Regions from separate parts of the Homo sapiens genome. Here region 1 is linked to region 2. The links come from fine-mapping of genetic effects on gene expression. A gene starts in region 2. The other region holds a variant in brackets. All regions are shown on one strand. Distances are from middle to middle.

Evidence for each region. PIP is the estimated chance that this variant, and not a neighbour inherited with it, causes the effect.
Region 1: its variant is the best candidate, but not a certain one, in a credible set for the expression of DOK5 in subcutaneous fat (GTEx, PIP 0.88).

Annotation. Positions count from the first base shown.
Region 1 is chr20:54,291,941-54,296,335 of GRCh38, reverse strand. No RefSeq gene overlaps it. Among named protein-coding and RNA genes, the nearest start is that of PFDN4, 86 kb to the right of the region's middle. The variant C/T (reference allele first, on the strand shown) is at 2,573.
Region 2 is chr20:54,473,949-54,478,343 of GRCh38, reverse strand. It overlaps DOK5 (docking protein 5), which reads right to left and starts at 2,751. Exons shown (of 8, transcript NM_018431.5): 1 at 2,332-2,751. The coding sequence starts at 2,397.

The DNA of each region.
Region 1 (4,395 bases), 180 kb after region 2:
AGACATGTTTGCTTCCCCTTCCACCATGATTGTAAGTTTCCTGAGGCCTCTCCAGCCATGCTGAACTGTGAGTCAATTAAACCTCTTTCCTTTATAAGTTACTGAGTCTCAGGTATGTCCTTATAGCAGTGTGAGAACGGACTAATACACCAGGTGCTCAACTCTGGGAGGTTTCTGACATTCAAGGCAAAGGGGAAAAAAGTGAGTAGGAAGTGGCAGGGAAAGAAGTGGGAAGATGTTAGATATAAGATCAGGAAGATAGGAAAGACTCGCATTGTAAAGTTTCTGTGGTCATGCTAAGGAGTTGGGATTTTATTCTAAACATGATAGCAAGACAAAATTTCCCATAAAAGAAGCATCTTGTGCTGAGACATTATGAAGACATGTGAAAGATTTTCCATTAGGAACAAAATTAAGATTAGTAGATTCCTTGTCCAGCTCATACATCAAGGTTATCTCCATGTTTCATTGTCTTTGAGCTAAAAACTAAGAGGAATGGAAATGACTCTTGTCCACAGGAATGCCAACTATATTTGGTGGCATGCCATTGATTATTGTCCAGTGGATATTGACTAGTTTTGTATTTACTAAAGAAATTCATTTCAGCATTTGATGAGCTATATATTTGTCTGTTCTTTGGATTCTCCTTTGCACCAGTTGTAACATCTTATTGATTCCCTTATCAATTAATAAATGAAAGAAAATCTTTGACACATCTTCATTTTGTATTTGCATGAAGGTCAGGATTTTGCCTTTTTAAAACATCATCATTTAAAAGCATAAACACTCTCCACGATAGAATCATGTGCTACCAAACATTCAAACTACCACCCAATTTCAACATCCAGTTGTTGCCATTAATTAAGCAAATCGCCACAACAACATAGCTAATCCTATAACCTAACACACTAACAACCCCCACAAGCAATCTCTAAACTGCTATTTGTTAAGGTGTAAACTAGAGAACAACTCTACAACAGCTCCACATCCCTTTTACAGAAGATGCATTTTGCCTACCTACTTCTATTAATCACTTCTCACTATCCACACTTGTGATTGCACACTCCAAATCTCTCCTTCTCTTTACTAAATGACCTTGGTGGGGTATGGAAAAGGCATGAGTAGATCAAATGTGTGGAAGCTACCAGAAGGTGGTATATATGGAGATGGGTCACATGAAATGTTGTTTACAAACACCTGGGCTTCCTTTTCTCAGTTTTTAAACCAGGAAAAAAACGATCAATAAAATATGCCAAGTACATTTTGATAACTTGATCCCACTTCTCTGCTCTATTATAATATCTGCAAGATGTCAATTACTCTACTGAAATAGGATTATTTCCAAGTTTTACCTTTTTAGAGATGACTTCAGAAATACCTAGACATGCAGCAGATGTTGGTCAAGCCTCCAGAACATTAAAATGCCTGTGATAACTTTTTAGTGTGTTTTACAACTACAAATTCACAGAGTCAAAGACTGGAATGAGGGACTTGGAGAAGAGGGAAGTGGGAAAGTTGGGCACAAATTTCAGTTAATTAAGATGGGACAGTTCTAGAGATATAATCTACAACACTGTCCCATAGCCAACAATGGTGTATTGTAAACTTAAAAATTCCCTAAGTGGATAGATCTCATGTTAAATGTTCTTATCTCAATATTTAATAACATTTATTATAATATTAAATAAACAAAGTCACCTGTCCTGTTAAATAATAACCCTGATTCTGCTTGTATCACTTTTAATCTTGCAAAACATACAAGGCTATTTTAAATATTAATGAAAGCTGTAAGTCCATTATTTAAATTGAAATGTCAGGTGGATTTTTTTAATGATGGAAGCACACATTTCAGCAGCACATATTCAACGCACTTTTCTTTGAGATTTTACATTTCAGGCTGAGTTAGATAACTTTTGTCTTAAAAATGATAAAAGCAGGTGACATGCTGGACAAATGTATTAATTAGGACTTTTAAGGGCAAGTTATAGAAATTTGGCTAAAAATGGGTTAAGTAAAAGCTGGAATATTAGCTCATGCAGCAGGAAAACCAGCTTCAGGCATGGTTGTATCCAGGACCATCAGGTGTCATCAACATCTAGGCTCTGTTTTGCTTGTATTGGCTTCATTCTCAAAAAGTCTCTTTCTGTGTAGAAGTAAGTCTGCCAGCACACCAGGTTGATATCTCACCCAATAGTATAGCAACCCCACTATTAAGCATTGAATACTTAGAACACGTTTATAAAATCCTCATAATTGAAGTACCTCTATCAGAAAAAGCAATGGTTTTATTATCAAACATTTTCTATTGTTAAATGAACATTTAGCAGATTAACAGGCAAAAAAAAATCTATAATATACATTTCCAAATAGAAGTCTCAATAGAGAAAAAGCTTCTTTCAGAAAGTGAATAATTTCTGCTAAGGATCAGAGAGGACTTCTTTTTTCTTTAATTTCATTTCACTTAACCTCCAGGCATTTGGCCACCTCTACACAATCAGTGCTTTTGTTTTTCTTCTACTTTTAGTTTCAAGTCACTGAGCCAAAGCCCATGATAAATGACTATTCCATGACT[C/T]CCTGACTTCAATTTTTTGTAGATAAACAATTCCAGGATTTATGATTAATATACCTAAAATATTATAGAAAAGCACAACAGTGTGAGGAGGGGCGATGAGTTCTGACAATAAAAGAGGTGAAACAATTTGGCAAGCTCACTGGGTCTTGGCTGGGAGACATTTGGCTCTGAGCAGGAGTCATAACTGCCAGGCTAAATCAGGGCAATTATAGTGATGCATTTATAATAGCAAAGTCGGTTTCAATTCACAGAACAAAATCTGGGAAAACACACATTGTCCCTGACAACAACCATTTAGAGTTTTCACTCTTACTGGGTACCAATGTAAATATATATAGATATATTGGTTTGTATCTATACACACATACATACATATTTTTCCTATATCTCCATCAATTCCATTTTCTCTTTGCAGTGAGGTAAAAATGGCAGGCTGGAAACAGAAACGGAACGGGAAAGGATCTGTATAACCGTTTATTCTCTGAGCTTTGACCACATCTCCCAAATCTGATTAGATTTGCTTCTTATTGCCATCCAGACAAGATTTATTCTTATTTGAGGGCATACAGAGTGAGAAGAAGAGGAAGGAGAGAGAATGCAAGGATGGGAAAGTGTCAACAGAATTGTTTGCACTTCTCGAAAGTGAGGAGTGAAACTGAAGCTCCCCAAAGCAGCACTGAGTGGGTGACACTCCTAGCATTTTTCGAGCACTTGTGATACCTGGCTTTGCAAATGTGATTTCACTGGATCCTCTTGGAAAGCTGTAACAGACATTGATGGTGCTGTGACCTCTGAGTTCATCTGCAGCTGCAGAGGCCAGCTTTGTTCAGTCTCAGGTGCACCTCAAGCACCCCAGTTTCTGCTTCTGCCTCCTGAGAACAGGCTCACCTGGGACAAGCCATTGCGAAGGAATTACTACTGTTGAGGACACCCCTCAACCAATGGGGGACCTACCTCCCATCCTTCTAATGAACCATTCTGGGAGGCATTCCCTATGTTTCTCAGCAGGTTCTTGATCAAAATGCTTATGACTTTTCTTAGTCCTTTGTTTACTCTTCCCACTACTTCATTCTCAATACCAAGGATCCTCCATCCCTCCCTGCCCCCATAAACTATCTTCACCCAAATCCCTATCTCAGAATTTGCTTTCAGGGAAATCCAAGCTAAGGCATAAGCTTATTATATTTCCCACTTGAGAGATGAGGAAACTGAGGCTCAGAGAAATTTGGCACAATACTATAAAGCTGGTAGGGAACAGAACCAGGATTTGAGCCTAGACTTTGGAGGCATCAAAATGTGTGTGTTTATCATTACACAACGCTGCCTCCTGGAATAGAGTAACCCTTGGTTTCACCTCTCCCTCTTCCTTTAATGAGTCATCAAAAACACATAATTCATCAGGCCCATGTGTTAGAACCTTCTCCTTGTGTGTCTTTGAAGAGCTTCATGAGAACGTGTTTGCCTCATTGGAAAAATCCAGCTCGATGCTAAATTGTATAGAGCTAATGATGTTGGGAAATTCAGATCCATTCAGCCAGTCAACCAGTATTTAGAGAGGGTTTACAATGTGCTATGTGCTACAATACTAATTGCTAAGGGTAAATTAATGAAAAGGAGACCTACCTCTCAAGGAGATTGCAATAGAACTAATACTTATAAATTCACAGTACTGAGTGGTGAGGCTGGTTCATGCTTAAAACACGCAACTCATCCAGCTAGAGATATATCTGTGGGTTAGGTGGGGAGAGGGAGTCAGAATTTCCAGAGAAATACTTTAAAAACTTTTATGCGCATCCAAATCACCTGGAGATCATATTAAAATG
Region 2 (4,395 bases):
GCTAACATTCCTTACTGTGGACATAGGGTCCCCATGCCAATTCCGTACAGCATCCTTCACCAATATTTGCAGCCTCCATTAAAACTTTGGTTTGCACTGTGTTCTGGCAACTATGTAATCAGCCTCTTTTGTAAATCATACCATAAGAATATTTTAAAAATTAACTGGTGAGAAAACCAATGCTAACAAATAAGACCAGATTTACTTGATCATATTTTTGACCTTTTCTCTCCATGAGCAATAACCATAATTCAATAGATATTCTGAAGTCTGAACGTGAACACAGACAAAAAGAATAAATCTTGAGAAAGTATACTGCTCATTAGCATCCAAAATGCTGTAAAACATAAAACAAATACAAACTAAATATTTCTGTTCCTTCTGCTTCAAATATCTGTCCATAAATGTTGGCACACACATAGGGCTATGTTGTGTCAATTGTAATAATCTAGAAAAAATAATCTCAGTTACCACAAACAAGAAAGTGATGGTAACCAGTTTTTCAAATAAATTACCATGTGTCACAATTTGGCATAAACTCTGATCCTTATGAATAATTCATATTTTGTGCATTAATAATGCATGTCCTCTTCCCATTGGAATGCTCCCTAACACAGAATGGATGTCTCATACCAATTCCTTCCATTGACATGATGGAGTAAAGCTAAATTAGAATGCTGGGTTTTTTTTTTTTTTAACTTAACTCCCCTTAAAATTGTAACACTTGGCCAGCCTATAAGCATACCAAAAATAGAAAGTTCCCATTATTGTTTGCCCCTTACATGGGAGTCACTCAGTAAAGTACCCCCAACAATGGGTGCTCTTGAAGATGAGAATATTTGCATAGCAGAAAAGAAAACCAAGGAAACTTTGGCAGAGCTGATGGAAATGGTGAATTCTGTTACATTTCTCCCTAATTACATATGTATATATTCACAATAACACAGGACATAATCGCTAAAACATGGTCACCAGCAGGGGAGAAAAAGAAAAGAAAAAGACCAAAACGAATTAGGCAAGAGTTTTATAATAATTGCGGATGTTCCTCCCCACAGGGCTTCCCTCCCTAGCTGAGTTTACTACTGTGAAATTTCTTTTCAGTTTTCAGTAAAAGTATCTGGCACATTAAAACAGTCCAAAGACCAAGTAAGAGAAAGATGCCAAATGACACATATTTCTAAAGAAAGCTATTCAATTTACCACTCATTATCAATGGCGGCATTCCACACGATTACTGACATTATACTTATTTCAGGCATTACACCAAAGGATATTTTCTCCCCCCGCCCCCGCCACCTCTCCACCCCCACTTTTCACCCCTTATGTCCAAACGCACAGGATCAACTAAAACAGCGACAACACTTGATAGGAGGCAAAGAGAAATGAGGGACCTAGTTTGAAATTTTTAGGAAATAAAAAAATCGTTCCAGTATCTTCCCTCTCCCTCAAGAATTCTTCCACCATCATTCAGTCCCAAGGAGAGGAAGGGTAGGTTCTCTTTTGAAGCCTCCTCCAGCGAAGAGCCAAGAGAGAAAGGGGCGAAAGAGAGGGAGTTTTAAGGAAGGAGCTAGCCTGTGTCAACATCTGTCCCAAGTGCCCTAAGATTCATTCATTCTTCCTTTCAGGACATATGTAGGGAGCACTTGCGCTATGCCAGGTATCAGGTTCCACGTAAATAACCCTTCCGTGGACCTCCAGGGTGTATTCCAGCAACAGAAATCCACCACCCCGGCTTCGAACCACGGAAAATCCAGATTCAAGTATCTACCCAAGTTGGCCCCGACCAGAGGCCAGCCCGCACCGCCTTTGACACGACACCTGGGACAGAGGTGGGGGGATCCAAAGACACCTTACGCTTGGCAGAAATCTCTCCCTGGGGTCAGAGGGTTCGTGACCTCGTTCACACCGAGTATGCGTGTCCTCTTTCTCAACCAGCCGATCCATCCCCCGGAAAAGTTAAGTTGGCGGCGAGTGGGAAAAGAGGGGAACCGGGGGCATCCGGCAGGCACCCCCGCCCGGGCTTCTCAGCTCCAACTTCCATGGCTACCGAGAAATATTTATTTCGAGTAGATGGGCTCCAGGGGCTACTGAAGCCCAACACGCGGCCACCATCAGAAAGCCAAGTCATCCAAGAGATAAAGATAGATCCATTACATACCTAGACGCTGGCCTTACAGTGACAGCCCCGGAGACGCGGGTTTCGGCTGAGAAAGCCACCGCGCAATTCTCCGGCGCGCGGCCGGGGACTCTCCGTCCACCCTCCAGGGATGCTGGCTCAAGAGAGAGACAATCGAACCGGCGAACAGCAACACGGAGAGGATCGATACTCACCCCGAGGCGTCTGCTCCGGATCCTCACGTACCCTTGCTTCACTATGTCATTAAAATTGGAAGCCATCCCAGACAGCCGGTGACCCCCCCTTTACCCAAGAGCGCGCACCCGAAGTGGCTCTGGGGAGGGTGGAGGGCAGGGTCAAGACAAGCAGTCGGTGGGAGAAAGTTGGAGAGGTGAAGCTGCTTCGGCGGCGCTGGGCGAGGCTTTAGAAGGCGCACATCACTTTCTCTGTCCCCCCAACCCTGACAGTGGGCGGCCGGCTTGCAGCCACTTTCGGGGAGCGCAGAGCGCGGCGCGGGGAGGCGAGGCTGGAGCGCCGGCGTCAGCTGACTCCGCGGCCGGCCTGCCAGGAGGAGGAGCGGCGGCGGCTGAGGGATCCAGCCCTGCCTCCTCCCGGCCGAGAAGGAGGAGAAGAAGGAGGAGGAGGAGGAGGAAGGAGGAGGAGGAAAGAGGAGGAAGGGGTGGGGGGCTAAGAGGAGGAGCCGCGCGAGTCCCAGCACTGGGCTGCGGCCACCCGTGAGCAGCCGCCCTGGAACGCTCCCCGCGCCTCCCACCCACCTTTCCCTCCCCGCTTCCCCTTCCGATCCCTCCCCTCCTGGCGGACCCGGAGCGTGCCCCCGCCACCCCCGCACCTCGCCCACAGCCTACTGAGATAGCGCTCGCTCTCCTCGCTCCAATGACTTATTTTAGGAGGAGAGGAAATTTCACTTTTTTCCAGCCGCCGCCCACCCCGCCTCCCCCTTCAGCCCCTGCCCTTTCCCCGAGAAGGGCCGATTTTGCGTGTGTGTCTGGGGAGATGGTGTTGCCGCGGCTCGCCTTGACCTTGGCATCTGAGGAGAGGGATATTGTCACCGCTTAAGCCAAATGCTTCCTTGGGTTTCCTTGTGTCAGGGACCTAGCCCTCGCTGGTATCATTTGCCACAGTTTCCCTGTTTCAGCCTCTTTCCCGCCGGAATGTGTTTCCCAGGGGGCTGAGACTTGGCCTCATCACTGTCTGTCCCCAAAGCCTGACCCCAGAGCAAGTGCTCAGTAAATCCTTGTGGTTATCAAGATGGCCACCTAGGTGCCAGGCACTCTCCAAGCCTTTTGCATGGATTGACTCATTCAAACTCCCCTGCACTTTTTGAGGTAGGTGCCCTGTTAATGTATACACCAGGCCCATATTTAATTAAGCCTCCTTAGCCTGGCAATAGAGCTCTCATTGCCATTATGAGATACTGCCTATACAATAAGATGAAGAAGGGGACTGAATTTCACACTCACCTGCCCCTGACTGCATTACCTCCCTAAAGCATACTTGATTGATAATTGCTAACACACATTGAGCACCAGTGTGCTGGGCATTGTGCTAATCTTGTTAAGGGAATAATGAATTAGGCACCAGCATCCACATTTTACAGACTTGCTAAGGTCTCACAGCTGGCCACTATCAGAGCTAGGATTGAAGGGAGGTGTGTGTAGTGCCCAGCTCTGCTCCTAAACATTCTCCTATTCCTCTTCTGAAGAGAGGATCTCACAGAAAGAGAGGTTACTAGTTGATTTCCAAGGAAGATCTTTCTAATCATTTGCACTATTCACAAAGGCAAAGATAATCATCAGAAATTAGACAAAAATTCTTACTCACTGGGAAGCGACAAAGCTAAAGCTAGAGATCACTGCTCAGAGCCATTGAGAAGAGGATTCAGTTAGTAGTGGATTGTTTGACCTGATGACATCCACAGGTCTTTCAACTCTAAGACGATATGAATCTTCCCATTCTCACTGGGAACATTAGCTTTTAGTCACCTTGGCTTGATGAGTTTCAGTTAAAGAACAGAAACCTCCAAGAATGTGTCATAGGAGAACCGAGACTAAATGGGGACAATCAAAAAGGAGATATTCTGGCAGGGAGAACTATTTTTGCTACATAGTAAACCATCTGTCTTCATGTTGCCATTCTATGGAAAATGATGTTTTAATTTTAAATCTCTCACCAAAAGAGATGAAATGGTAAAATCATTTGGAGAGCTCCTTTTGAAGGATTGGAACTTAAAAAAAAAAATGCTGCCCATGGTTGCTGTA